7 linked regions of the Homo sapiens genome follow. The protein of the gene in region 1 interacts with the protein of each later gene in a pairwise test. Each region holds a gene or a part of one and is shown in the gene's direction. Other genes may lie near its edges.

Region 1 (4,276 bases):
TTAATCAGGCAAAAGGTATCCATTTTGAAAAATCTACAGGAAACAAACAAAATGGCGAATTGAAAGCTTTCCTTATGAGAAAGGAACAAGACAAAGCTGACTGCTCTCACTATTTCTTTTGACATTGTATTCAAGGTTCTTGATAAACCAGTAAAGCTAGTAAAAGAAACAAAAGATATAAGGAATGAAAAAGAAGAAACAAAACTTCATTATTCAGAAGATACAATAATGTTTGTAGAAAAATCAAAATAATCTATTAAAAAATTGTTAGAATTAATAAGAAAATTTAGCAGTTTTGCTGGGTATAAAAATCAATATCCCAATATTAATTAGATTTTGATGTGCTGGAAATAATTAAAAAGTGAAATCACTACACTGTTTGTGCTTTGGTTTTTCAGAAACTGGGATAATAATCATACTAACCTTATGCTGTAAGTAGAAGAATATAGTATAGCTTTTAAGAATGTGGGGTTTGTAGTCAAATTGCCTAAGTTTAAATCCCTATTCTACCAGTTATTAGTCATATGTCTGAAGTAGTCACTTGTCTCAAAGCATTAACTTCCTTACCTGTAAAATGGGAATTGTTATGCTGCTTAACTTAGGTGTTATGAAAATTAAATGACACAGTATATGAAACTGCTTAGCACAGTGCTTGATGCATTTATCCAATAATTGTTCATTTCTGTTATTATCTAAAAAACTATCTCAATCTAAAGCTACAGGAATGATAGGCTTGAGACTTGGATTGAAATTGATCTTGTTTCTCTAGAACCAAAAGGAATTGAAAACACGAAACAAAACACTGGACTAGAGAGTGAAATATAATGAATTGGTGAGAAAAAAGCTTAACTCCTGGATTGATGCTAGATGAGGAACAGGTAGCAAAAAGGGAAAAAAAGATGAATAGGCTAGATATAAAATAATTAATTTTTAAAACTTGTACCAAGCTTAGTGTTTTCAAAGAATAGATAATGCTGTAGGAAAAAGCTTACTATGTATAATGTTATATGAAAACAGGAAAATATAAAAATGATTTTATGGTATGCTCTAAATCAGCTGTCCTCAACCTTTTTGGTACCAGGGACTGGTTTCATGGAAGACAGTTTTTCCATGGACAGGGGTAGTGGGTGGGGGTGCAGGCCTGGGAGGGTGGGGGGGCAGGGATTGTTTTGGGATGAAACTGTTCCACCTCAGATCATCAGGCATTAGATTCTCATAAGGAGAGCGCAACCTAGATCCCTCACTTGTGCAGTTCACAATAGGGTTCACGCTCCTGTGAGAATCTAATGCCGCTACTGATCTGACAGAAGGCAGAGCTCAGGTTGTAATGCTCGCTCACACATGTGGAAAAAAACTAAGAACTCCTCAAAATATTAAATTATGGCTATATAGTGATATTTAGGGTGATCTTCATGTTCTTTTTAATTTTGCGTGGTTTTCAAATTTTCCATAATACATGTTATTTTTATAATCAGGAAAAGCAATAAATATTATTTTTATTGAAGATAAAAATCTATTACAAAAACATAATTCTAAGCTGCTTGATTAACATATAACTCATAAATATGTATACATGTTACCCTGATATTTTATATTGTGATGACTCATGCCCTTAACAAAGATATGGAGCTAAGTTGCTGTGAATAGACTTGATTAACAGTATCACACATACAAAAATGAGAGGGGCTGACTCAATCTCAGAATAATGATCTTTGGAGGAGAGTCCCTATTCCCCTTTTCTGAGATTTTTAATTTTTTTAAATATAGACTTACTACTTATTATATGGAAAGATAGATTTTAGAAAATTACAGAATTCCTGGTAAAGATTCAAGGATTTTCTCTCATAGCATTCTACATTCTCCAATATACTTGTTTTCAGCCAAGGATGAAGTGTAAGGGCCCAAAGAGGTCTGAGACTTTAGTCATCAGGAACTCTAAAAAAAATTAAGAAATAAATAAAACAAATTAATTTTTTAAAGAGTATCAGGTAACTTACTGTTATATAACAATGCCCATGTATTTCTCAACTCTGTTTTCTCCTTGTCTTTGTGCCCTTAGGTGCTGATATTCGTGGCTTCAGTGCTCCTAGGACATTTGGCCTTACACTGGGACATGTAGTAGATGAAATACAGAGAAATGAGAAGCCCGTGGTGGCAGCAATCCAAGGCATGGCTTTCGGAGGGGGACTAGAGCTGGCCCTGGGCTGTCACTATAGGATTGCCCACGCAGAGGTAACAACCAAGGCTCTATATAGTGGCTGGTGTGTGGGGCTTTTCTTTAGGGCAAACTCTAAATGTAGTCATAAGTATCAGCGGTGATTATTTTATTTATTTGTTTTTTTGAGATGGAGTCTCACTCTGTCTTCCAGGCTGGAGTGCAGTGGTGTGATCTCGGCTCACTGCAACCTCCACCTCCCGAGTTCAAGCAATTCTCCTTCCTCAGCCTCCCAAGAAGCTGGGACTACAGGCATGCTACCATGCCCAGCAAATTTTTGTATTTTTAGTAGAGACGGGGTTTCACCATGTTGGCCAGGCTGGTCTCAAACTCCTGACCTCAGGTGACCACCCACCTTGGCTTCCCAAAGTGCTGGGATTACAGGCATGAGCCACTGCACCCGGCCCAGAGGTGATAATTTTGAATGGTTAGCTTACTGGTTAACGACTTCAGCTGTTACGTGCCAGTACAGTGGTACTAATTGTTAAAATGTTCAAATACTTCACTTCCATTCTGGTAAGTAAACACCTGCTACTCTGAGCCCTAGTTTCCCTTGTTTCCCTTAACCTTAGCCCTAGGGCCTCTCTATGATCCATCAACTACAGGGGAACTCCTTGTTTCCCTTAACCTTAGCCCTAGGGCCTCTCTATGATCTTGTTTCCCTTAACCTTAGCCCTAGGGCCTCTCTCTGATCCATCAGCTACAGGGGAACTCCTTGTTTCCCTTAACCTTAGCCCTAGGGCCTCTCTATGATCTTGTTTCCCTTAACCTTAGCCCTAGGGCCTCTCTCTGATCCATCAGCTACAGGGGAACTCCTGAGTCAATAGAGAGCCCCGAGACTCTACCTCCAGTACTATGACCCATATCAGGTTTCACTGATGCAGTGCTCATGCAGTATGAGTATTAAATATGTTGGCTGTCACTTCTAAGTATACATTTAAATACTTCTTTGATAACTCAAAGATTTCTGTTTCATGGTCCCTTATAATTATCAGTACCTAATAAGACAAATTTCTATTGGAAAATAGCACAAAACTAGTAAATATGGGGAAATTTCTGGAAATAGGTTTAATTTAGGCTGTTAGACATGTCAGATGAGGTCTGTGATACCACTGTGTATCACAGTATATATAATGGTGGCATTTTTGTAATTAATATATTTTTCTAATGATGAAAATAATATTCATTCTACTAAACTAGAGAACATAAGAAAGTATACAGATGTAAACTAAAATCATCATAAACTCACAGTTCAGAAATAACCACTATTAACATTCTATTTCATTCTAGTCTTTTTTTGTATGTAATTTTTTCTTACAGATTCTTTTTCCTTTGAAAAATGTCCTTTAAAAAAAAGTACATTGGCTGGGCATGGTGGCTCATGCCTGTAATCCCAGCACTTTGGGAGGCCGAGGCAGGCAGATCACAAAGTCAGGAGATCGAGACCATCCTGGCCAACATGATGAAACCCCGTCTCTACTAAAAATACAAAAATTAGCTGGGCATGCTGGCAGGCGCCTGTAATCCCAGCTACTCGGGAGGCTGAGGCAGGAGAATCACTTGAACCTGGAAGGTGGAGGTTGCAGTAAGCTGAGATCGTGCCACTGCACTCCAGCCTGGTGACAGAGCGGGTCTCCATCTCAAAACAAACAACAACAAAAAAAACCACATTTGGGCTTTTTTTGTATTTAGTTTATACTCTATTTTTATACTATAATATTTAACCCATAATTAAATATTCTTTATTCTGCCAATCTCTGTCTTTTAATTAGAGAACTTAATACACTTATATTTAATGTAATTACTGATAAGGAAGAACATCTGCCATTTTGCTATTTGTTTTCTATGCTTTTTGGTTTTTTTGTTCAATTCCTCCATTACTGCTTTCATTTGTGTTAAATGTAAAAGTATACCCTTGTAACTTTCTTGCTGTTTCTTTTACTATATATATTTTTAGTTATTTTCTTAATGGTGGTTAACTTGGTGATTACAATTAACATCTTAATTTATGACAATGTAGTTCAGATTAATACTGACTGAATTTTAATAATATACAAAAAA
Region 2 (4,276 bases), on another chromosome or scaffold:
TGCCATCCCTGTACCACCACCACCCCCTAACCGTGTTTCAAGTTGGTTGACCATGGACAAATGATTGGTAATTGACATTGTATAGAAAAGCAAACTTCTGATTTATTTGTTATTAGTTCACCACACTAAAAACTTAATTAGCCATCGGAGTTGCAATTACATGACTCCAAATTTAAGTTTCCTTTGAATATAGCCACATTAAACCAATTAAAAATCTGAAGTACATATTGAATGCCTTTAAAAATGAGAAAATGGACCTAATTGTTACACCCGGTTAGAAAAATACAGTATATTTGCCTTTCTGAACCGTACAGTAGAAACCTACAGTGGTTGCTTTATTAAGTGCTACCTCACCCTTAGAGGTATTAATGCTTCACAGGATTCTTGGCCCAGCTTTAAAAATGAATGATTCATTTTGATTCAGTAGGTATTTAGTAAGGACTAAGCATGAGCTACATACTTTTGTTCTCTAATTCTTTTAATGGAGGAATAATAATCACAAACATTTTTACATAAAAACAATTTAAAAAATATTGGGGCAGTAGATATATGGCCAGATAAGATTTTATTATTTTTCACTGAAAAGATGTATAAAATAAACTGTTTTGATATTCTAAACACTAGTTAAGTACATATGGTTTGAAGGAAATAATGAGAGGATGATTATTCTCTTATATTCTAATATCTATGTGGTCTGGAATAGATGTTCTTAACTTTTTGGGGGTCCTATACCCCCGATGATTTGAAAACATATACTTTCTGTTTTATAATTCACTTTAAAGTCCATATGAAAATGGTTTCGTAGAGCTTACAGAATAAATACTCCTTGGCGTAATGTCATCTTCCAACATTTCTAATGTTGGAAGTGTCCAATGTCTAATGTCTTGCGGTGTCCCAGTGCTTATTCCGAGTGTATTCAGGCTAATGGGAAAACAAACATCATGCAAACAACTCTAACATGATATATTGTACTGTAATCGTATTTTCAATAAAATTGTATACAACTACATAAAGAGGAGATTAATTATTACTAATGAGGTAGGTTTTTCTAAGGAATTGTTATTTGAGCTGAACCTTTAAGAATGAGGTAATGAAGTAGCATCAAGACTTTTGGCACAGCAACAAGGAACCTTTCCCTCCCCTGCCATTTGCTGAGTATTCTGATTGTACCTTTGATAGCAATTTCTGCCCTACTTTCTAGCTGTTTATGCATTTTTTTTCCTTATCATCTCTTGGAGGATTGAATTTTTCCAAGGCTTGGGTACATCTCATTCAATTTCATATGTGCATATATGTCCTATGTCTTGTACATATAAGCCACCTATTAAATGTTTGATGGGTTAAATCCAATTGAACATGAGTCCTTTCCTCCATAGCTTACGTGTTATTGTAGCTAAACGACTTCTGAATTGCCTACTGGAATAACTAGGAAGTAGACTAAGCCTTGAAAGGAAGGGCTTGGTTAAGTTGGTATCATATAAAATTTCAAATCCCTAATTTTTCTATATAATCATTAAAAGTAGAGGTAGGAAAAATGACATCACATTGTGGCGTCTAGAAGGAAAAACTTTGTGTCATGATAATATTTAGGCATTATCCCTTTACATAAAGTGCCTCAAGCAGTGATCCTGAATGAAACACTGCCTATGAGTCTAAATGGGTATCATAATCTCAAGGAAACCAAATCTATAGATTGGTTTTTTTCTACCCTATTGATAAAAAAAATTATATGTTTAGACATATGATCTGACAGAATGGCTTTTAGTAATGTTATTTGCTTTGAGTTTTTAAAACTGACTTCAGAAGAAATGCTATTGAGGCACAATAGCGATTTAAAAAGGGAATTGAGTGGAACATTATACCTATTATATCAAACTATTTTTATTGCTTTGGAAGAGAACTATTAAGGCAAAGGCAGTCATCATATTAAATATCTCAAAACTATTTTTCCCAATAGATTTTAATCATTTTATTGTTTTCTACCACTTTGTATGTCTTTATCATTTTTTAAGTATCATCAAATTTACTAATATACCCTGAAGAAAAACCTCCTGTACATTGGGGAAAAAGTAATCCTATTTCCTAATAGGAAAAGTGTAAGAAAATCTGAATGTAAAGATATGAAGCTACCCTGATAATTATTTTTAGTTTAACGAATAGAAATGCAAACAGGTTACTTTCAGTTGACCTTTTACCAATTCTCACTTAATATTTTTATACCCCAGAAAGTTCTATTTTATTATAAAGAAACTGGCTACAGCCTTTCACTATTATATGAAAGCTTAAAACGAACTCAGTTAAATCACACACTCTCACAAACAGCTTGGAACCTCGTTAATGCTACTGACAAAGACTAATTTTGTATTTAATATTGATCATTTATAACCCCTTGCTTGTTTTCCAGGGGATGTACGTATTTTTGCATGCAGTGAAAGGAACACCTTTCGAAACTCCTGACCAGGGTAAAGCAAGGCTCCTAACTCATTGGGAACAACTGGACTATGGAGTACAGTTTACATCTTCACGGAAGTTTTTCACAATTTCTCCAATAATTCTGTAAGTGGCAGAAATTTTTAGGTATGAGGAGGATTGGATAAGAGGAAGATATCTTTTCATCAGATTGAATTGGAATTAGAAACATATTTTGTTGCAAACTTCTATCAATAAGTAGCACCTCGGATAGAACATAAAATATAGACAAAATTTTTAACAAGTTGATAATAAACTAATTTTCACTTCAGTCAGTACATATACGGAGACAATATTACATGCTAATCAGTGCACCTAGACATTTAGGATATACAGGTCAAATGTATTCCAGCTCCCGTCCTTAGGTTTCATATAAGGACACAAAATACATAATCATATTCTATATTGCACTGTCAGATTAATCTCCTTAAGCAATGATTTAGATAATGAGAAGAATTTCACTGGCCACCTATCCTATTAAGATATTCAGACTCCTTGGGAAAGAGTATGGTTTCGAAAAAAGTAGGTCAGGCTTTCATTATAGGATAGACCTGGGTGGAGTCCTATATATATCACTCAGCCAGCTTGGTTTGCTCATATATAAAATTCTAGCTAGTGATACCTAATTCAATCCTAATGCTGTAAGAAATAAATGAGATAATAATCTACCTGGATAGCATGTAACCTGTATCTGGTATCTAATTTCTTTCTCCTATCTGATGTTCTGGGCCTTCCAGAAAATAGTTCTTACCTCCTTTTCCCTTGATGTAAATATTTTATCCCCACCCAACTCCTACCTGGCCTTCTAAGCAGCATTTCTTGAATATTTCATGTGTAGTCCTATTTCTGTCTTTGTTCAAATCAGTTCAAATCATATCTCCTACCTGAAATGCCTCCTCCTTTTTTCCCCAGCTTTACTGAGGTATAATTGACAAATAAAAAAATGTATATATGTTTTATTTTGTCTCTCCAAAGAATTTATAAGTGCATGGATTGCTTTGAATCCCACAGTAAGTACAGTGGCCTACACATAATAGAGGTATTGCTCATATATCTTAATACTCTGTACCATCTAGCCTATACATAATAATGTCCATGATAGAGTCAGTGCAGCCTGGCATAGCACAAAAGACTTCTTGGAGGTGTTGGAAATCCTTATGTTAGAACTTAAGAGAGACTAGGTTTTAGATATTTAAGTAAGGGAAGGCATTTTTAAAGTGAAAGGAATAAACTGATCATAAAATAATGGGGTTCTTTTTCCTTAATTTATAGCCCTTTGAGGAAATTTTGAATTGATTTAGTCCCATATAATATTAACCTCAAAGAAAAGTGTCAGTGTAGTCTGATAAAAATAAATGTAAGCTACATGGGAAGCTGAGGCAGGAAGATGGTTTGAGCCTAGGAGTTAAGAGGCTGCAGTGAGCTGTAGTCACACTGCTGTACTCCAGTCTGGGCAACAGAGCAAGACCCGATTTATTAAATAAATAAGTGAATGAATGCATGCATGCATGTAATAACAAAAATATTGGTTATTCAGATGGCCCTGAATTTGGATTTTGGCTCAACCCCTTTGAAGCTCTGTGACTTTTGGCCGTTTTCTTCAAAAGCTCAGTTTTCTCATCTGTAAAACATTGAGGATTGCATTATAATACATGTAAAATGCCTGACATTCAGAAGTTTTAATCACAGCTATCACACAAAAAGCCAACTGAGATGTACCTGTATACAGTGTCCATATTTCTCAAAATGTATTTTTGACCAACAGGTATGATTTCAAATATTCTGATTAAATTGCTTACTTAACTGA
Region 3 (4,276 bases), about 47 Mb from region 1:
TTAAATGAAAATCTCTGGGGATGAGAACAAACATTAGTATTTCTTTAAAAGCTCCCCCAGAAGATGCTCAGGTGCAGCCTGTGTTGAAAAAAAACCACACCTAAGGGCACCTCACCTGTCAGTTCACAGCTACTTGGGGAATTAAGGTATTTTGCAACAGGAAGGGAACACTGAGTTCCTATTTTTCTGTTTGCTTCTTTCAGCCCTGAATCCTGCCCACCCTTCAGGTCTGATAACACTTCATTGTTCATTGGGAAGAATGCTGTAGTCACACCTTTGGTGCAGGGAATCAGGCTTTAGAGCCTGTTGACTCACCTGTTATCAGCTGATAAGCCTCTTGATCAGAATATCAAGTAAGAGACAGAATGGCTAAAAGAGAAACCTACCTGCTACTTGCTTTGTGGCAGTTTTCTCTGTTTACTTATCGATAGAGAAGATTAGGATCCCAGAGGGTAGGACCATGCAGGTGCAGGGGAAGGTGAGTTTACCACCATGAATCTCCGTGGTCATTACTAGACATAGGGGGTTTCTGGCAATGAGCAGTGGAGCCAATTTCCTCCCACTTACTGGCACCTGCTCCCATGACAGTTGCCAGTGGGACCAAGACTGTTGATCGTTGTTTGTAGAATTCTCTTCCCAGCAAAGAAGCAAAGTTAAAATCAGAAGTTTCTTTAGGAGAAGAGAATCAGAATCAAGTATATGGAGATCAATGGGATAGAACTAGAATAGGTGGACACTGTCATTCATACTTCAGACAGATATCTGGTGAGAAGGCTGCTAGGGCCTCTGCTCCTCAGATATTGCAGGAGGCACTTTAACAAGTTCTACATTATCTAACTCTCCTTTTTCAAAATTTCTCATTGATTGCCGATTCTTCTGGCATGAAAAATTGCTTTATGATACATACACACCTTAGAGTGAATATGCTGGCAGCTCCACTGATGTTAGCTGTTGTAGGAGAGGGAAATCTTCCCAAGGTGACTGGAGAGAGTTCTCTCCCAGGACTGCTGGAGGAGATGGGAATGCTGTCATCTTGAGAGTTACATTTATAAATAATCTACCAGGCCAGCTTATTCCCTAAGAAGATTTGGAGAATGTTTTCTTCCACATTCTTAGCATCCATTTCGGAGGATGATAGTTTATGGTTGAGTCTCCAAATTTGGAGGATACATTCTGTAAGAGTATACAGATCCTTGTACCTTGATGGAAGCCAGGACTTTACCTGTTTTTCCAGAATAAGGTGCCTCAAAACAATGTGCTGTGATGGAAAAGTAATGATTTTGAGGCAATTTTGGATTTGACTCCCAGCTCTGCCTCCTTTCCCTTGGTGTGTGTCCTTAGGCAAGTTACCTCACGTGAGTCTCCATTTCTTCAACCATAAAATGGGTGATAATTTTATTACTTACATTGTAGGGGTTTTTTCCCCATGGATTACATTTTTGAATGTCTGAAAATTCCTTACTAGCTTTCACTAAAAAGTAGCAACTGCCTATGAAAACTAGGGCTGGACAGAACTCTGTTTTGTTTACAGTTTCCTCTGAGCCCTTTGCCTACAGCCCTATAGGCAGATTCCCTCAGTATCTCCTTCAAAGAGAAAAAAAAAAAGTGTTAAGCATTTCTCCTGTTTTTTTTCCATTCCCAAATTTTAATTTTGCCTGGATGTTATTAACTGGTCTCACTGAGGGTAGGAATGACACCTCCTTTGAATGTACCCCACAAGCCCCTTCTAGTTAAAACTTGGCAAGGTCTCCATCTGCATTTCTAGCTGGCTTCTGACTTGCTCCCTTGGGTCTAGGTAACAGGAGGAGCCTCATTAGGGTTTTGTTTCTCCTTTTTAAAAAATTCCTTCCTGGAAAACTACCCACCAGGATGCTAAAGGTGGCTATCTCCAAGAGTTGGAATAACAGGTTATTGTTTTTCATTTCCTGTTTATGGTTTTCTATACATCCTGAAATTTTTATATTGAACAGTTATTGCTTATATAACTAGGGAAAAAAAATCAGCAATTTCCCAAAAAAGAAAAATTATGCCCTTTACCTCTTCTCTGACACCACACTGTGGAATGCGATGTCTTTGCAGCCATAAGACTTGGCATGAGAGGTCCCCTCACATCTGCAAGGGGCTTCAGCAGCACTCTGGTAATGGCTTCGAACCTGGAGGGGTGGAAACTCTCCAAAAACAATAAGACTTTAAAGGTTAGCATGTCTAGACACTGATGAAACCATCTTCCATAAGTTAGAACCACTTGATTTCAAGTAACAGAACCCCAACCTGAATTAGTTCAAACAGGTAGGGATTTAAAAATAATAATAATAACAATGGTGCTGGGATAGCACCTGAAACCTAAGGAAGGAATGTATGTGGACCATAGGAAAAGCTGGAGTCAGGAGCTCAAACACTGTCAGGGCTCTCTACCTCACTGTTGGGTTTCATCTGCTTGCCATTATACAGCAGCTCACCACCTGAAGGAAACCACGGACTCCCAAGGACAGCATCTTACACTTTCAGCCCCTGGAGAGAGACTGGCCTGATGCTCTCTGTGTCCAGCACAAACATTCTGTATAAGGGTCTCATCTGCCCAGTTTGACTCAGATGCCCATGCTGGATTAATTTGCCATGGTCAAGGGCACCAGGTGTAAAGTCTGGGCCTGAGAGATCAAGGTCAATATTACTACTCAAAGTAGGGCCTGTGTACCAAGCTGGCCCACAAACTATGTGTTACCCACCTGAAGAGTTCTGGTACCGAAATCAAGAATAAATATTTCTAAACATTTATAACAATTTGACATGCCTGTGACACTCAAGCAGGTGATTTTGTATTTTGTCAGGATGTCAATTTGTGACAGATTAGAAATTTAAATTTTTAAGTAGTTTGAAAAGCACTGATGTAAGACACAGCAACTCCTTCAGAAATCACGGACTTAAGAGGAAAAAAGGGGATATACTGGAGGGATAAAACAATTGGTGTCTAGCACATAAGCATCTCCACACAGTTTTGCAGTTCAGCTCCACCAGACCAACCACACTAGGGGCCTTGCCTTCTGGAACACATGAAGGACTAATTTGTCTTCCTTGTTAAATTAATTATACTTGTAATAGACATGCTTAGTGACTGTCATTCGCCACTTTGGCATAAGCTCCATGACAACAGAGACCATGTCTGACCTGTTGTTAACTACTGTCATCCCATGGCCAGTCAGGAGGGCTCAGTAAACAATTGTTGCTATGAGTCACTGCAATTTAAGGATGCACTAGAAACAACTTTGGATATATCTGGAGGTGAAGGCACTGCAGAAGAGTCCCTGTAGGGCCTATAGCTATGACTGATTCCTAGAAAGGAAACTGCTGATAAACTGTAGTCTAGATGAAAGGCCTAATATTGTTATATTGTTTTATATACATCTGAAACCTACAGCTCACCATAATCTTAGTAGTTCCTTCTGGAAAGGGACAAAATTGAGTATCCTTGGTATATCACTTAGCAACCTTGACTTCATCATATGCAATAAATGAATTCCGGGTTTCCTAAAGTGGACACAACTATGTGAAACTTTTAGCGCATATGGAAACACAAGAGAAGAAAAATATTTAGGTTAGAAGTCACAGCTATAAGCTCTATCAGTAATTTGAACTCTTACCTTAGGCAAACTATTTTCCCCTTTCCAACCCCCAGATTATCAAGCTTTAAAAATGAGGAAGCTGAAATAGATACAATCCAAGGGCCCCCCCAAGTTCCAACCATCCATAATTCTCTGATTCTGAAGACATCTGAGTGCATGTCCTTCATCAGTCAGAGAATTGTAAGCAATGTATTTTGTATTTCCCACAATTCCACATCCTTTGACAATGGCAAGGTTCACAGTTTATGGACTTTGCTGTCTCTCAGAGGTTTGGTGCAGGTTAGTTGTGGTTGCTTTGTTTTATTAAACCACAGCCTAATCAAGTGTGCTGAGTTGGTCTTATTTGTCTGCTTGTGTCTTGCCCCTTGTCCCACAGCCATGCTGCAGGCAGTGCGAGCCCTGATGATCGTAGGCATCGTCCTGGGTGCCATTGGCCTCCTGGTATCCATCTTTGCCCTGAAATGCATCCGCATTGGCAGCATGGAGGACTCTGCCAAAGCCAACATGACACTGACCTCCGGGATCATGTTCATTGTCTCAGGTAAACACAGAGCCTGGAGTTCCCACTTCTGCGAATGTCAAAGCAAAATTATTCTGGTAGAGAAAACATGACTCCTCCCTACTGCTGAATGTGGTTCAGAACTTTTCATACTGAG
Region 4 (4,276 bases), on another chromosome or scaffold:
TCACAAGTTAATTCTGTTTTCCTTCTTATTCCTCTGGGTGCCGTTAACCCCTCCTTCCTAATCTCTTCAGTACTTTGATATTTGATGTCAAGATTAATTACCAGACCAGTTAGTCCACCTTTCCATAGTGTTGCCCAGCTGTGTTCTAGTTGTGGGCATTCAAGAAAAGATGCTATTGCATACCAGAGGAAATGACTTCCTTGAGTTTAGTGTCTGGACACTAAGCAATGACGATGGTTGGCTTTCCAGAAATGTCACAAAGTGAGTCCTCAATAGGAGGTTGTTTGCGTGTATACATTTGCCCACTTAAAAAATAGGTGGTAAGAATATGCATGAAGATGAGCTTGAAAAGTCTGTTGGCCCCTGAAAAGTTAAGTCACTGAGAATAAGAGTCAGACTTCAGGAGCACAGTTAGGCAAACATTACTGTGAATTACAGAAAATAGTGTCTCTTTTTTTTTTTTTCAGGCACAGATGTTAAAGATGCCAAGGTGATAAGTGTTTCTACAGGAACAAAATGTATTAATGGTGAATACATGAGTGATCGTGGCCTTGCATTAAATGACTGCCATGCAGAAATAATATCTCGGAGATCCTTGCTCAGATTTCTTTATACACAACTTGAGCTTTACTTAAAGTAAGTTTAGTAAACAAATAAGGACAGGAAGCTCTTTTTAAAAAATATTCCTCTATTAGAAAACATTGCAAAACCTTTCATTGTTTCTGTAATCATGGAAAATCTCTCAAAATCATAACTTTAATTAGTAACAATAAGGCTGCATCCCATTCTTCCACAATGCTCAACACACATATGCACACATACATACAATAACATAACATGGTCATAAATTTCAAGTCTGTGTTTAAGACCATGTGATTTTGTTGTATGCTGTATAAATAGAAGTTCCCAAACTGCCAGGTAAAGATGGTAATTTTTATTCTAGTCACCGTTTCTAGAAAGAGCTAGTCATGTATCCAAACTCCTTTTCTTTACAAAGCCATTTTTTGTATGTGGTCTTTCTGTTCTGAAGTCATAAATTGGAAGAAGGAAAGGTTACTCACATCCTGATGACATATCCATTATTGAGTGACAAGAACTGTATTAATTACCCTAAACATGTAAAATAAATATTCCAGTTCAAACTTATCTTTCCCTTGTGGAAAATACTAGCCTCTGAAAATGATAGACTAAAATTTAACTATATACAGCTTTAAATGTTACTTTTGCAACTTTTTTCCTTTCAGTAACAAAGATGATCAAAAAAGATCCATCTTTCAGAAATCAGAGCGAGGGGGGTTTAGGCTGAAGGAGAATGTCCAGTTTCATCTGTACATCAGCACCTCTCCCTGTGGAGATGCCAGAATCTTCTCACCACATGAGCCAATCCTGGAAGGTATGAGACGAGATTCTTCAACAAGCCAGTTTCTCAAGAAAATGTTAACAGATAAAAACTAACCTGTGTTAATATCCCTTTTCCTTTTTTTCTTTTTATTTTTAGACTTGGATGTGGATCTGATAAGAGTCTCTATAAAAGCATGGATTTTTTTCTTTCCAATTAACTTAATTAGAAAACTTTAATGAATGAAAAATGCTGATTGTAATTAACCAAGTAATTAGAATGGAGTGAGAATATTGGATTAAAATTGTATCAGTATTTAAATTTGGGTAATAAATATCTCTAAATCAGAGGTGTATGTGATCCTCCATATTTCTGAGGAATTCTAATTTGCTAAATGTGTAATTAAAGTATTTATTTGCCTGATATTTCAGAAGCAGATAAACACTAGTGAAAAGTGAAACCACTATTGTGATCATATTTTTTTCCATCCTTCTTTACATTTGAGGTTAGCACTTTTGTTTTTTAGTGTTTTGTATCTACATCCCTTCTCCCAAGCCCTTAGGCATTGTTTATTCCAAATAGAACGTTTTATTACATTACTTTCCTTGTTTATAAAAGCAACAGGCATACTCACTGTGGAAAATTGCTAACTATTTTTAAAATATAAGAACATTAAAATCATCCGTATTCCTGTAACCCAGAAATACTCACTATGGATGTTTTACCATACTTTCCATGGGTTTATTTCTGCATCTGTCTAGATTTATTTTGGAAATTTTAAAAATATAGAGGAAAATAACATGGCAAACACCCAAGTATCCATCACCCAGAATTAGCAAATGTTAGCATTTTGTCCTATTTGCTTCAGTGCATTTTTAATGATAGAAATAAATCATTTCAGTTAAAGTGAAAACCCCATTTCCCCAACTCCCTTGGAGACCACTTTTGTGAATTTTGTTTGTGTTATGTCCTTCCTACTCAATTTCATATAATTTTTTTTTTTTTTTTTTGAGACAGGGTCTCGCTCTTACACCCAGGCTGGAGTGCAGTGGTGCAATCATGGCTCACTGCAGCCTCGACCTCCTGGGCTCTTAAGCGATCCTTCCACCTCAACCTTCCAAGGAGCTGGGACTACAGGCATGTACCACTATACCTGGCTAATTTTTATATTTTTTATAGAGATGGGGTTTCACCATGTTGCCCAGGCTGGTCTTAAACTCCTGGGCTCAAGCGATCCACCTGCCTCAGCCTCCCAAAGTGCTGAGATTACAGGTGTGAGCCACCATACCCAGCCTCTCAGCTTCACATACTTATTTTGTATGTGTATTTTGTATGTATGGCATAAACATATGCATTTATATGCACAGACTGTATTTTAAATTTATAAGCTATTGTTAGATGTGCTTTTCAATAAATCAAATAGATGGTTTACTACCTGTGGGGTTTTAACTCTTTTTCTCTCTTAGAACCAGCAGATAGACACCCAAATCGTAAAGCAAGAGGACAGCTACGGACCAAAATAGAGTCTGGTGAGGGGACGATTCCAGTGCGCTCCAATGCGAGCATCCAAACGTGGGACGGGGTGCTGCAAGGGGAGCGGCTGCTCACCATGTCCTGCAGTGACAAGATTGCACGGTAAGGGGCGGGGGCTCCCTGTGGCCACCTCCCTGCACACAGGATTCATCCATACTGTTTGCCAACCTCCCTTTTCCACAACCATTTGAATTTTGGCCCCATTTCCCACTCAGGTGTTCCACAGTATTCTTTGAAGGACTGAGGTTCTAAACAGGTGCTGCTGGGACCCCCGTGAGGGGCAGCAGCAGGACCTAGACACAGGAGGCTCCACGCTTCTAACATTCCTATCCAAGCGTCTCAGAGTTTACCACTTATTTTTAACGTGGGCTTCTGGGTTAAACTGATGTTTTTAATGGGCTACAGGCCATGACATCTTAAAACTACTGGCTTCTCCTCATTAGTAGTAGATGCAACTTCAGTGGTCACTTTCATCATTCAGTTAACATTTTAGGTAGTTGATATGTGCATTTTAAAAGTAATGCAAACCCTGTCACAGGCATTGTGTTCTAAGCACAGAGAGCATCCCCAGCCATTCTGTGCCTGGGTGTGGGTTAGGCTTAGAGGAGGGCTCTGCAAGCACACTTCTGTAGTCAGCAGGCACCTGGGAGATATTCATCTTTCAGAGGCCTGTATCCAGAGCAGATTATAGAAAACCCATTTCTTCAGATGGTATCAGTTCCAGTAGTTCTTTGTTTTCATTTTTAAACTAATGTTTATTTGGAAAAAAAAAGTAACATAAGCAGATGGCAAAAAGCATACAATGATAAAGTTTAAAACCTCCCTCTTCAGAGCCCTCCTGTGGCACCCACAGTGAGTGGGTTTTGACTGTCCATCCAGAAGCTGTCAAAATTGATGCATACGCATGTGCACGTGCACATCTTTTCATTGTTTGTGTGCCCTTTATGTTGATTTCCTTCAGTGGGTCTTGTCAGGCAACCTCAAGTACAGGGAGCTGGATTAATCACACATTTTGGGCCATTGCCCACAGCCCAGGTGACCACTGTGATGTGTTTATTTATTATTTGTCCTTCCAGTCCACCTCCACACGTGCATATGTCAACTTTGTGTGTGTGTGATGTGGGGGAGGGGGGTGTACTCTTGAAAAATACACAATAGAATTATTTGGAGTATTTGTTGCTAATTTACAGAAATGATACTATGCTGTAAATCCTATCTGATTCTTACATTTTCATTCAACCTATATTTTTGGAGCTATTTCTGTTGCTCTAACCAACAGCCAGTTCACTACTGACTTTTGCAAATCTTCCTTCATAGTCATGGGCCATTTCCTTCATGATGGGACACCCATATTTCTTCTAACTCCCTTATACATGTAGTCCTGTATATCCTTCAACTTATGCA
Region 5 (4,276 bases), on another chromosome or scaffold:
GGACTTGGTGTGGGTATAGATAGGGGAGTGGTGTGGGAATAGAATGGCTGGGGAAAGAGGAATGAGTGTAGGGGTGAGAATAGGTGTCAAGGAGGTGTGGATCCAAGAATGAGAGCAGGTGTGCAGGGAGGTGTGGGTGCAGGGATGAGAGCAGGTGTGCAGGGAGGCGTGGGTGCGGGGATGGGAACAGGTGTGCAGGGAGGTGTGGGTGCAGGGATGGGAACAGGTGTGCAGGGAGGTGTGGGTGCGGGAATGTGAACCGGTGTGCAGGGATGAGAGCAGGTGTGCAGGGAGGTGTGCAGGGATGAGAGCAGGTGTGCAGGGAGGTGTGGGTGCAGGGATGAGAACAGGTGTGCAGGGATGAGAGCAGGTGTGCAGGGAGGTGTGCAGGGATGAGAGCAGGTGTGCAGGGAGGTGTGGGTGCAGGGATGGGAACAGGTGTGCAGGGAGGTGTTGGTGCGGGGATGGGAACAGGTGTGCAGGGAGGTGTTGGTGCGGGAATGTGAACCGGTGTGCAGGGAGGCGTGGGTGCGGGGATGGGAACAGGTGTGCAGGGATGAGAGCAGGTGTGCAGGGAGGTGTGGGTGCGGGGATGGGAACAGGTGTGCAGGGATGAGAACAGGTGTGCAGGGGGTGCAGATGTGGAGGCCGATAGGCCCACAAGCACACACAGGACTGCTCAACACTGACGCTAGCCCTGCCTCACGTGTCCACAGGAAGGATGGATGGGATGCCTCAGGGGAGCGGGAGATGGGGTGCAAACTCAAAGGACCCCCCAGGCTGCCCTTAGGACTTAGAGATTACAGGAACAAAGGCTCAGGGCTGCCCTGTCAGGGTGGCTCCTGTGACAGAGACTTGTTTGGCTGAGCTGGATACCGGATGCCCAGTCCCTATGGGAAGGTTAGCATGAGGGGCCTGACTGGCAGCCTGGGACATAAACTCAGGGGGTGGCAGAGGGCTGAGTGGCAGACAGCATTTCCCTTCAGGGACATGGACGCTGACAGGCTGACAGGCTCTTGGCATTTGAAAGGTCATGGAGACAGAGAGTGAGTTTGTGCTAATTAGCAAAGACACCTGCAAACGGCCCGCTTGGGGTCTCTGGCAAAAGTGCCAGCGCGGGCCCGCTTGGCCTGTCTAATTGGACTGGGGGCCTACGTAGGGCATGTTTTTTCCTCATTAGTGAATTCATTAGGGCCGTGATCAGGCGTTCAGGATAAATGTCAGCCGAAAGCTTAGTGAGGGGGCACCTTGCTGGCCTCTGTCTGCCTGCTCTCCCTGTGTGCCGAGGGGGCACCTTGCTGGTCTCTGGCTGCCTGCTCTCCCTGTGTGCAGAGGGGGCCCAAGGTACCTGGACAGGCACGTGGGGAGATGAGCCAGCCAGAGGGAGGCTGGGATTGGGGCTCACAACCCCTGTCATGCCCATGGTGACTGCCCCTCACCCAAAGTGGGGGTGCCTGAGCCAGCACCCACCCCCTGCTGGGTAGGTGGCGATGTCGCCACAAGATCCTACCCCTGGATTAGGTTGAGAGCCTGGACTTGGGAGCCAGATGGCCTGGGTTCAAGCTTCAGCTGTAGGACCTAGGCAAGTACCCTAAGGGCTCTGTGCCTCAGTTTACCCCTCTCTAACATGGAAGTGGTAGTACTACCTGTGTCGTGAGTGTTAAGAAGACTAAAGGAGTGAGTCCGTGGAAGGTACTCCACGTGTGGTGTGACTCCACACTGGGATTCCTGGGTTTTATCTTCAGGCTTGCCGAAGACACTCGGAAGGCATCCTCTGTCACAGAACACAGAAAGCAACAACTTCGATTTCACTTATCTCGTGGCTGACTTTGCGGACTTTTAGTTGTTAGGTTTTGGGTCTTTGGTTTGTGCATGTGTGGTTGGATTGGGGTTTTTTTGGCCTTTCCTTTGAAAGACAGAAATTCTTCCCACTGTAACCTTGAAATCTGAGCTGCGATGGGGGCATCTTGGGATATTGGCCCTAGCCCCCCGTGCCCACACGTTCATATTCTTTACCGGTCTCTGATACTTTATGCTCTATGGGGTTAAAGAGAAAAGTGGTGGCATGAAACCTTGGCAAGATCTGAGGACCCCCCCTCTCCTGAGCTTATGCTCTCACCCTGTGTTGAGCTCCAGCAGAGCTGCTGGGAGCACAGACAGAAGCACTGGAGCCTTTAAAGTTTAAGAATGACTCATTCTCAACCCAAGTACGTCTGCCATGTCGGGTTAGGCAGGTTGTGCGCTGCACAAGGGCACCCACCCGAGGAAATGGAGGGTTTCAAATCCAGGCTGCAATCCGCTTTCAACACATGTGCACTGACACTGGTCTCATCCTCTCGGCAGAGAAAGGAGAGTCTTTTTCTAATCCATAGGAAGGTGCCATGTGGACTCTCAGGGCCCTTGTCCCAAGCACCCAGCTTTGAATGCAGATCCTCTGGAAGTAATGCCAGGGGTTTATGCAGAGAGGCTGGGGGCCAGGAACTGTCATGGGCTCCCTCTTGTCTCTGACCTCCATGCCACTCACATAGTTTCTCTTAAGGAGGAACAGATCCTTGAGGAGGGGGGAGGTGGCTGCAGGGCAGGTGGGGGATGAGCTTGCTGGCATTTGCTCAGCAGGTCTGTTCAGGTGGAAGGAGCTGAGGGTGGAAGCTTAGGGACCGCCTCCCAGAGTCCCTGATGTTCTTAAGCCACCTCCCCTGGTGGCCCAATCTGATCCAAACCCACAAGACCTTCCTGGTAGGGCCAAAAGTGTCCCCAGAGCAACTGCAAGTGAAGGGAAAAGGTGAGGCGATGGGTGGGACTGGTGGCATGTGTCCCACCCATCCCTCCACAGAGCCCCTCCACAGAGGAGCTGTGGAGGCCCCTCTGTGGAGCTCCACCTCAGAAGCACAGCCTCTGGCCAGAGCGTTGGCACCTCCAGGCCTGGCACCTCCTTCCTGCATGGCTTGGCATCTAGATGGCTGCATCTGTGGCCTGGGAGAGGAGGTAACTGAGAACCTCATGCCGGCCATTGGCAGCCATCTCATGCTGCCTCAGGGAAGGACCTGAAGTTTGCCACATAGATGGGGCGGAGAAGAAAGGGTTCTTCTGTACTCTAAGAACAGTGCTGAGAGAGTCAGGGCTTAGGGGCTGGGATTGGGGTTGGGAGCATGCAGAGACCACTTGGCGTTTGGAAGCTATGGAGTGGTGGCTCATCCAGCTGCTGGTTTTTGGATCCACTTCATACCGATGGTGTGACATGGGACAAGTTGCTCACAGTGGGTTATCTTAAATAGCACCTGCCTCCAGGTGGCCATGTAAATTGAGAGAAAATTCACTGGCAGGGGGCAGATACTCTATATTTGTTGAACGCATGGAAAATGTTGAGTGCATGGTGAGCCCAAGAAAGCTAGCTATTGCATTATTGTTAGTTTGAGGATTATCTGTAAACAGGCATTGGTCTGGGAATTAGCTGGATGAGGCATGATTCTCTGTGTACTGGAGTTTACTGGTTAGTGTGGGAATTAGCTGGGTGGGTAGGGATTATCTAAAATGGAATTTGTCTTTTAGTTTGGGGATTAGCTGGGAGGGTAGGGATTATCTGAGCTGCAGTTGTTCTGTCAGTCAGGCCATTGACTGGATTTGGGGGCCGTGCATGCACTAGCCCCACCAGCCTTATCTCTGCAGACACCAGCTCCTTTCTCTGCTTCCTTCCTTGCAGATGATGGGAAGCTGTCCTTGGAGGAATTCCAGCTCTTCTTTGCAGATGGCGTCCTTAATGAGAAAGAACTGGAGGATCTCTTTCACACGATTGACTCTGACAACACCAAGTGAGCTTCAGTCCTGGCTGGCAGAGTGGGGGTGTGTGTGGGCTGTGGTGGAGGCATCTTTTCATCTAGTGTCCGTTCCTAGTCCCCTGTAAGGGGCAGGAGAACTGAAAATCCCCAAATTTGCTAATCCAGAAGTCAGCTCTTCACTGCCTGGGGTGAATGGGGCGTGTGCAGATTCATATTGCATTGGCTACTATCGCAAGTGTGTCTTCTGAGTGCACATGGCCAACTAAGGAGAGACTCCTGGTTTTGCACAGTGGACATGGGATTATGAAAATGGGAAGGTGGCAATGACTTCATCCTTCTGCCATCTTCAGCCAGCAGCCAGTTCTCACCCCAACCCCAATGCCTGTGTGTCCTCCCAGTCCCAACATTAACTGTGAGGTTGAACGTCATCCTAACACTGACTCCTGTGTTAAACCAAACACGAATCCTAACTCAACACTACGTCTATCATTATAGCTTAT
Region 6 (4,276 bases), on another chromosome or scaffold:
ATGTGGTATATGGTCTTTTTGGTTTCTGTGTTACGGTCAGCTGAGTTTAAAGAGTGGGAGTATTCTAAGGTAAGGAGTCTAGTAGCAATCAAAACAAAGTTACTGGGGAAGATGGGAGAATAGAGACTAGACAAAGATGTTAGAATTTGATTCTAAAGCTCTCCTCAGGTAATAAAAATAGATAAATCTTAATGAGAAGGAACCAAGGGCAGTGATTTGGAGAAGTCAGTACAAATAAAGGTATTCATTTGAAGAAATATTTGAGTGCCTTTTATGTGCCAGGCACTATTAAATAAAACTATAGCTATTTTCCTTATTTGACTTTTTTTCTGAAGATAAAATCTTATGAGTGTGATTAATGGTTCTACAAGCATGGGTAGTTCTAGATATGATACCTACATTTCCCTAAAAGATTGTACTGATTTTTAATGATAACAGCAATGTATAAGGATGTTGTTTTCACCACGATTTTACCAGCAAAAATATTTGGCTAGTTGAACACACATAAAATTATTGTTCTCTTTGCTTATAATCTGATAAGTGTTTCCATACCTTGGAACCTGGATCTGTTGGAACATGAAGGAATTCAGGACCCTTATACATGTTACCCCATATGGCTTCTTTAAAGGATATGGATTTTTGAGGATCCTAGAAATCAAAATTCTCTAATTTTATTCAGCTCAAAAAAAAATTTTATTCAGTGCTGCTGTCCTTATTTTCTGAATAATATTCAGATTCAGACCACACTGAGCCATAATTCCAATTCCCACTTGACTAACATTTATGTAGTATTGTGCTAGGCACTACATGTTATCTTAATTCTAATAATTTGGCATTTTTCCATATGAGAAAAATAAGATTTAGAAAGATTAGATTACTTGCCCAAAATCACTTAACCAGTAAGTGGTAGAGACAGGATTTGAATGCAGATCCTCTAAGGCCAGTGTTTATTCTCATACTGCATGATCCCTCAGTATCACTACTAAAATTTACTGGAGGATAATGGAAAGTGGAAAATCTGAACTGGAACTTGGGACAATCAAGCACTGACTTACCTGTGTTCATAATGAAGCATTTAGCAGAGATGTTGTTTGTTGTTTTGTTTTGTTTTTACTGGGGAGGCTATAGTACATAAACAGAGCGAAAGATCTTGGTATGGTTAAACCCACATTTTCAAGGCCTTCTGTGTTCTCCCTGATGATCAGGTACCTACTACCCCAAAATCTGTGATGGTAACAAAGAAGGAGGAAGGCAGCTGTAGAAAAGCAACGGCCTTTGGGTATACCCAGTAAGATTTATGTGATTGTAGAAAGAGCAGGCAAATGGCTTGGCCTTCAGAGAATCCCACAAAGTAAAGTAACCTTTTAAAATAGTAACTTAAAGTCTGACATAAGATTCTTAACAGGATATTCATCACAAGATAAGATATTCAAAGCATAGCGTGTAAGACATTCAAAGCATATCAGCAAAAAAGGAGAGATTCCTTCATTTTTATTGAAGTATGGTATACTCACAAAACAAATTTAATATCAGGAATATAAAACAAGAGATACGATGTTCCAATTCTGGCTTTAGTCGGATATTATAAAATTTAATCCCAATTTATAGATAAGGCAATTCAAGGCTCGAGATTACACACCAAATAAGTGGACTCTAGGCTGGGTGTGGTGGCTTCTGTAATCCCAACACTTTGGGAAGCCAAGGCAGAAGGATCGCCTTAGCTCAGGAGTTTGGGACCGGCTTGGGTAACATAGTGAGATGCTGTCTCTACAAAAAAATAAAAAATAGCCAGACATGGTGGTATATACACATGTGGTCATAGCTACTCAGGAGGCTGAGGCCAGAGGATCGCATAAGCCCAGGAGTTCAAGGCTGTGAGCTGTTATCGAGCCACTGCACTCCAACCTGGGCTACAGAGCAAGACTCTGTCTCAAAAAAAAAAAAAAAGGAGGGGGGAGCCTCTAGAACATAGGCCTTTAATCTGTGTGGTTGTTTTGCAATTTATATGTATAATTTTTAAATAATATGTTGGCCGGGCACAGTGGTTTGTATCTATAATCTCAACACTTTGGGAGGCTGAGACAGGAGGATTGCTTGAGGCCAGGAGTTTGAGACTAACACAGGCAACATAGCAAGACCCCATCTCTACTAAACAAAATAATAATAATTTAATATGGTGGGTTTTTTTGTTTTTTTTGTTTTTTTGAGACGGAGTCTTGCTCTGTCTCCCAGGCTGGAGTGCAGTGGCGCTAGTGAGCTCATGCAATTCTCCTGCCTCAGCCTCCCAAGTAGCTGGGATTACTAGCGCTTGCCTGCTTCAAAAGAAATGATTTCCAGCACCCCATTTTTTCTTTTCCAGCCTCAAAATTCATATCTCCTTTTTTTCCCCCATGTCCACATGTCCTTCATTCCTATACTTCATAGCTTTAATTCCTGTTCTCTTGATACAAACCTTCATGTTTGTTGCTTGATGGCATCATAATTATCATAACTTTTTGGCTTAATAACAGTAGCAGTTATATCAACAAATAATAAAATGTTCATACTTTTGAGCCAATAATTCCACATATAGAACTTCATTCTGAGAAAATACTTTAAATAAGAAAAATAGTTAAAGGCACAAAATGTTAATAGCACTGATATCTATACTGTCTAAAACTTGAAACCTTCTAAATATTCAACAATATAATAATGCCTAAGCAAATTATTGCCTATCTACTCAGTGGGCTGTAAGACATTCATTTTTCACAATAGCGTCTTTAAGAATACATTGAAAGATGTTGTAAGAATGTTTTTGCAAAAATGAAAAGGAGAAACATCAGAAGAAAAAGTAGAAAAACTAATGTGATTGGTGTCTATTTCTGAAGCATTTATATTTTCTATATAATAATAATTTACATTTACTGACCACTTACTTGTGTCAGGAACAATACTCAAGCAACATTATAGAAGCAACAATTTGTAGTTATTGAAAACTGGTGTTCTAGAATCAAATCTGAGCTTCATCACTTACTAATATGTGGTCTTGAAAAGGAAATGGAGGATAACTATGTCTACATTAAATTATTAAATCTATATAAAGTATTTGGCACATACAAAACCTACAATAAGAATGTTTTTGTTATCAGACATTTTATAAATATGTCTCATTTAATCTTCACATCCTCACAGTAACCTCATTAGATAGTGTTAACGTTCATTTTACATGAAAGAAAATTGAAACTTCAAATGTTTAAATACTCTAGGTTAAATAACTTGCCGAATCACTTAACTAATAAGCAGTAGAGTTTTTATTCAGAGCCCAAGCTATGGTTTCCACTTATGACTCTGAGAGATGAGGTTGCTGCAGACTAATGCTTTTGCTAAGAACAGGAAAGATGAGAATTAAAAAGAAAAGTGAAGGCATCAGAGACCTGCTGAGGCATCCAGGACTTAAGAAACCACAACCATAGAACCAAAGGAGCTTCAGAGAAGTGGGCTGATGTTCCATGCTTCTCTTTTTTCCTAGGAATTTGCTAATTCTTAGAGCATGACAAGATGCTGTGAAACTTAGCAGAGGGTTTCTTCTAAAAGCAGAGAAGCTGTTAGTTTTATGGGGCGGAGCAGACAAAACTTGGATTTTAGAGATCTCCAGGTAGCTAGTTCTTGGGTCAAGATCCCTAGAGAAGGACAGTACCCAGAAACTTTTTTAAAACTTGTTTTCCCCTCACAGTGTTTGCTAGGCAGAGTCTAGAACTGTAAGAAAGTTAATTTGTATTGCTTTAAGCCAATAGCTTTGGATAACTTGTGACAGCAACAATATGAAACTATTACAGAGACATGAGGAAATGATGAAGAAGTCTAACATACATATGACTGGAGGAGAGAAAGTTAGAAGCAGTAATATTTTAAGAGACAGTGATTGAGAATTTTCTAAAACCGATGACAAATATCAAGCCATGGATTTGAAAAGTGCAAGAAACGACAAGCAGAATAAATACAAGGAGTACCACACTTTCATTCTTCATAGTAAAAATAAAACTGTTGAAAGTAACCAGAGGAAAAAAGACACATAATCTTCAAAGGAACAATTAGACTGACATCTGACTTGTCAACAGAAATAATGGGGGCCAGAAAACAATACAATGTAACTTTTTTGTTTGTTTTTTTGCTTTTACCTACTTGGTTTATTTATTTTTTATTTTATTTTATTTTATTTTGAGATGGAGTCTCCCTCTGTCACCCAGGCTGGAATGCAGTGGCGTGATCTCAGCTCACTGCAACCTTTGCCTCCTGT
Region 7 (4,276 bases), on another chromosome or scaffold:
CCAGAGCCAGACCCTATGGCTGCCTTGAGACTAGTCAATAGTCAACAGATGAAGGGCATCATGGAAAATGTAGACTATGATTCAACCTCTGGGACTGGGATAGAGGCTTGTTAACCTATAGATCAATAGGTTGTGCATTCTGCCTGAACAAATTGAGGCTTCGCAGGGATAAAGAAAACCATTATGTAGTTAGTGGACAATAAATATTACAATTTGTATTTCGTAGTGGACAATGTTACAATAGATATGACCTAAGTAGAACTGGAATTGTCAAAATGAATTATTTATGTCATATGCTATCTTCAATTGCATCTTTATATTTTTATTTGTATTTGGCAAAATTGAATACGAGCATTTTCTGTTTCTTAGTGGATAGTTACAAGTGTTTAAATTCCTCTGTATTTTTAGTTACACTGGAAAAATATGCAATATTGAAAAAGCACGGCCAGGCATGGTGGCTCACGCCTGTAATCCCAGCACTTTGGGAGGCTGAGGCGGGTGGATCACGAGGTCAGGAGATCGAGACCATCCTGGCCAACATGGTGAAACCCCATCTCTACTAAAATACAAAAAATTATCTGGGCGTGGTTGCGCATGCCTGTAGTCCGAGCTACTCAGTAGACTGAGGCAAGGGAATCGCTTGAACCCTGGAGGCAGAGGTTGCAGTGAGCCGAGATCATGCTACTGCACTCCAGCCTGGTGACAGAGCAAGACTCTGTCAAAAATAAAAAAAAAGCATTGTTTTCATCAATTTTCAAAAAAAAAAAAAAAAAAAGTGTAGGTCTTGTTCCTGTATTTACAAGGGAAATTTCAGCGTGAAATTATGGTCTCTATCTTTTCTCAGGTCTTAAAAATAAATATGAATTTAGATTCCATACATCGATTAATTGAGGAAACACAGATCTTCCAGATGCAACAATCATCAATTAAGTCACGCGGCGACATGGTGGCACCTGCCTCACCCCCCAGGGATACCTGTAATACCTGCTTCCCACTTCATGGGCTACAATCTCATGCTGCTCACAATTTCTGTGCTCACTCATATAACACCAACAAATGGGATATTTGTGAAGAACTTCGCCTGCGGGAGCTTGAAGAAGTCAAGGCCAGAGCTGCTCAGATGGAAAAGACCATGCGGTGGTGGTCGGACTGCACTGCCAACTGGAGAGAAAAATGGAGTAAAGTTCGAGCTGAAAGGAACAGTGCCAGGGAGGAAGGAAGACAACTCAGAATAAAACTAGAGATGGCGATGAAAGAATTGAGTACACTGAAAAAGAAACAGAGTTTGCCACCTCAGAAGGAGGCATTAGAAGCTAAAGTTACCCAGGATCTGAAGCTTCCTGGCTTCGTAGAAGAATCCTGTGAACATACAGACCAATTTCAATTGAGTTCACAAATGCATGAGTCTATCAGAGAGTATTTGGTAAAAAGACAATTTTCTACAAAGGAGGACACAAATAATAAGGTAAGAAAAAAATCCAGAGATGATGTGAATTTCTGAAGGTCATATATAGTGATGGGGAGGAAGAAGGAAGTGACAAATGCAATGGTGATTATACTAGCCTGCCAGGGCTACCATAACAAAGTACCATAATCACAGTGGTTTAAGCAACAGAAATTCATTTTCTTACAATTGTAGAAGCTAGAAGTACAAGATCAACATGCTAGCAGGGTTGGTTTCTTCTGAGGCCTCTCTCCTTGGCTTATAGAAAGCCGTTTTCTCCCTGTGTCTTCACATGGTCTTTTCTCTGTACACATGTCTGTGTCTTAAGGTCTTCTTGTAAGGGCACCATCATTAGGCCCACCCTAATGACCCTAATTTAACTAAATCACCTCCCTAAAGGCCCTGTCTCCACCAACAGTCACATTCTGAGGTACTGGGGGTTAGGAGACCTAACAAGAAAGATATGTATATGTATCCTTCGTCTGACTTCAATACTTTCCGTGAACAACACATCTTATTTTATTGCTTGTCAAAATATTATAGTACAGATGATTGCAATGCTCATTCTTGAGAGAATTAAGGAATGAATCATCCTAGGTAACCTGGAATCCACATACTACTTAAAAAATAAAATAAAAGTGAAGTATCATCGAGATTTTACTGGAACTTGACTATTCATTGAGATTTTATTTGAAATTGTCTTTCATTTCAAACTTATAAACCAGGGCAAATTTAAATTGTAGGCAAATACCAATAGCATGAGTCCTGTGAAGTTTTTGAGTTACGCTCTAAGAGTGTCGTGCAGTTGTTGCTCTAGTACTGATGTCCATGTTTATTAAAGCGCCCCATTAAATTCTATTTAGATGTGACTCATGAATTAAAGCAATAAGGGGAACTAAAATGAAGCAATAAGCAAGCTTTTTAAAATATTCAACAGCTTCCTGAAAATTCTATCTTGTCTTTCAAAAATGTTAAAAAATGATTGCTTTGAAACTGTAAGTGTCTTATGACAAAAGAAACTTGAAAGAGGAATTCATCAACTCATTAAAAATTATTTACAGCTGTTCAAGTTTGTGCAGAGTTATTTTTAGCTGCGATTAGAAAAAGAGAACAAACAAGAGTTAAAGCAGAACTTTTGAGAAATGTATTTTTTTTATGAGAAAGTAGAACATAGAAAAAAACAAGCTCAAAGAAGAATGCAAGTAAGTGTGGCCACACAACACTTTCAGGGAATGATAATGAAATAAAAATATGAATTGGTTGTGGTATCGTAACATTTATTTCTTTATGAAAATGTTTTGTCATCATGATTTTTCTCCAGGAGGTTTAAATATGTTTTGTTTTGTTTTGTCTTCAGGAACAAGGTGTGGTTATTGATTCTCTAAAATTAAGTGAGGAGATGAAGCCCAATCTAGATGGTGTTGATTTATTCAACAATGGTGGTTCTGGAAACGGTGAAACGAAAACTGGGCTGAGACTGAAAGCAATAAATCTGCCTTTGGAAAATGAAGTAACTGAAATTTCAGCTTTGCAGGTGCATTTGGATGAATTCCAAAAAATCTTATGGAAGGAAAGAGAGTAAGTGCTAATCATTGTCTCCCTTAACCAAGTCTAAGTTTCAAATCACTTAAAATTGTTAATACAGATAGATTGGTCATTTGATAATGTATTTTATCCATGTTTAGTCATTAAGTTTTAGGATTTAAAGAAATTAGTTTGATATATATTCATATGTTGAATTTTAAAATGTAGTTTATAACTTGTTAGTGTTTTCCATTCTTTTAAGTTGACTTTTATCATGACTATGTTTTTATCTTCTCTGGTAGATTCACTTTAATTGTATATGAATTCTTAATGTACAAGGTTAAAATATCCAGTGTATTATTTAAGTTTGACAGCATCTTGGACTTGGTCAGTAAAAATGAATAAATATGTTAATATTAATAGTGGAAAAATCACAATTTTGTGAGATATTTATTACAGAAAAAGTAGTCTTATACATGGACCATTAAGGGCATCAGGCTTTTGCTTAATTGGCCTGGATATTCATCTTTGGTCTGATGTCTTCTAGCTATGTGATGTTGGCTGTTGCCCCTTTGTGAAAATAGCTGTAGTGCTGTTATGTTCCAGTTATCTATTATCTTGAAACAAACTTTTCCAAGTAATTATCATTAAAACATATCAACAGCAACCACCCTGTCTTCTGTTCAAGAATCGCGAGCATGGCTTGGCATGGACATTGTATCTCTCACTTGTGCCTTCAGTTGCAAGGGCTCAAAGGCTGGCAATGCATGGAAGGCTGGGGGCTGCAGCCTCTTTCACTCATATCTGGCAGTCCATCTCGGTTTTCATCTATGCCTCAGTTGGGACACCTGCACTGGGGCTATTTAAGGGGGTGCTTGGCTTCCTCACAACATTGGGGCTAGGTTGCAAGTGAACATCTTAAGAACACAGAGAGAAGAAAACGCCATTTGAATGATTCTGCCTCAAAAGTCAGACCCACTTATCGGTGGTGAGAATCTCAAAGTCTGACTCAGATTAAAGAGAGAGAGGCACTTTCAATGGAAGGAGTGTGAAAACAATTTTATAATAAGGGTGTGTGGGATGCAGTCATTGTGGCAACGATCTTTGCAAAATACAGTCTGTCATAGCCTTTCTCAGTGAATTCTCATAAAGATCAAGAACAAATAACATCTGGGAAAGAGAATAGTAATATGAAATGTTCAATATGGATTTTCGTTTCTATGCAATCAGCTTACAATTTTATTAGCACAATGTGGAATATCTAATATATAAATAAGGTTCCAAAATCTAAAAATAATTATTTTTTAT

Evidence for each region.
Region 2: the proteins of EHHADH (region 1) and ORMDL1 interact in binary tests that used the Homo sapiens proteins (3 or more experiments, as listed by UniProt).
Region 3: the proteins of EHHADH (region 1) and CLDN18 interact in binary tests that used the Homo sapiens proteins (3 or more experiments, as listed by UniProt).
Region 4: the proteins of EHHADH (region 1) and ADARB1 interact in binary tests that used the Homo sapiens proteins (3 or more experiments, as listed by UniProt).
Region 5: the proteins of EHHADH (region 1) and NECAB2 interact in binary tests that used the Homo sapiens proteins (3 or more experiments, as listed by UniProt).
Region 6: the proteins of EHHADH (region 1) and HMG20A interact in binary tests that used the Homo sapiens proteins (3 or more experiments, as listed by UniProt).
Region 7: the proteins of EHHADH (region 1) and CCDC102B interact in binary tests that used the Homo sapiens proteins (3 or more experiments, as listed by UniProt).

Annotation. Positions count from the first base shown.
Region 1 is NC_000003.12:185,233,246-185,237,521, reverse strand, and holds part of EHHADH (peroxisomal bifunctional enzyme), read left to right. Parts: intron 1-2,059; coding exon 2,060-2,232; intron 2,233-4,276. UniProt on the Homo sapiens protein: Peroxisomal trifunctional enzyme possessing 2-enoyl-CoA hydratase, 3-hydroxyacyl-CoA dehydrogenase, and delta 3, delta 2-enoyl-CoA isomerase activities. Catalyzes two of the four reactions of the long chain fatty acids peroxisomal beta-oxidation pathway.
Region 2 is NC_000002.12:189,773,845-189,778,120, reverse strand, and holds part of ORMDL1 (ORM1-like protein 1), read left to right. Parts: intron 1-2,404; coding exon 2,405-2,556; intron 2,557-4,006; coding exon of another isoform or gene 4,007-4,016; exon of another isoform or gene 4,017-4,272; intron 4,273-4,276. UniProt on the Homo sapiens protein: Plays an essential role in the homeostatic regulation of sphingolipid de novo biosynthesis by modulating the activity of the serine palmitoyltransferase (SPT) in response to ceramide levels.
Region 3 is NC_000003.12:138,019,662-138,023,937, forward strand, and holds part of CLDN18 (claudin-18), read left to right. Parts: intron 1-911; exon of another isoform or gene 912-3,996; coding exon 3,997-4,161; intron 4,162-4,276. UniProt on the Homo sapiens protein: Involved in alveolar fluid homeostasis via regulation of alveolar epithelial tight junction composition and therefore ion transport and solute permeability, potentially via downstream regulation of the actin cytoskeleton organization and beta-2-adrenergic signaling.
Region 4 is NC_000021.9:45,182,118-45,186,393, forward strand, and holds part of ADARB1 (double-stranded RNA-specific editase 1), read left to right. Parts: intron 1-467; coding exon 468-636; intron 637-1,244; coding exon 1,245-1,393; intron 1,394-2,356; coding exon of another isoform or gene 2,357-2,476; intron 2,477-2,805; coding exon 2,806-2,974; intron 2,975-4,276. UniProt on the Homo sapiens protein: Catalyzes the hydrolytic deamination of adenosine to inosine in double-stranded RNA (dsRNA) referred to as A-to-I RNA editing.
Region 5 is NC_000016.10:83,974,744-83,979,019, forward strand, and holds part of NECAB2 (N-terminal EF-hand calcium-binding protein 2), read left to right. Parts: intron 1-3,700; coding exon 3,701-3,809; intron 3,810-4,276. UniProt on the Homo sapiens protein: May act as a signaling scaffold protein that senses intracellular calcium.
Region 6 is NC_000015.10:77,427,031-77,431,306, forward strand, and holds part of HMG20A (high mobility group protein 20A), read left to right. Parts: intron 1-4,276. UniProt on the Homo sapiens protein: Plays a role in neuronal differentiation as chromatin-associated protein. Acts as inhibitor of HMG20B. Overcomes the repressive effects of the neuronal silencer REST and induces the activation of neuronal-specific genes.
Region 7 is NC_000018.10:68,835,905-68,840,180, forward strand, and holds part of CCDC102B (coiled-coil domain-containing protein 102B), read left to right. Parts: intron 1-844; coding exon of another isoform or gene 845-859; coding exon 860-1,465; intron 1,466-2,801; coding exon 2,802-3,022; intron 3,023-4,276. UniProt on the Homo sapiens protein: During interphase, forms fibers at the proximal ends of centrioles to maintain centrosome cohesion. During mitosis, dissociates from the centrosome following phosphorylation to allow centrosome separation. Contributes to CROCC/rootletin filament formation.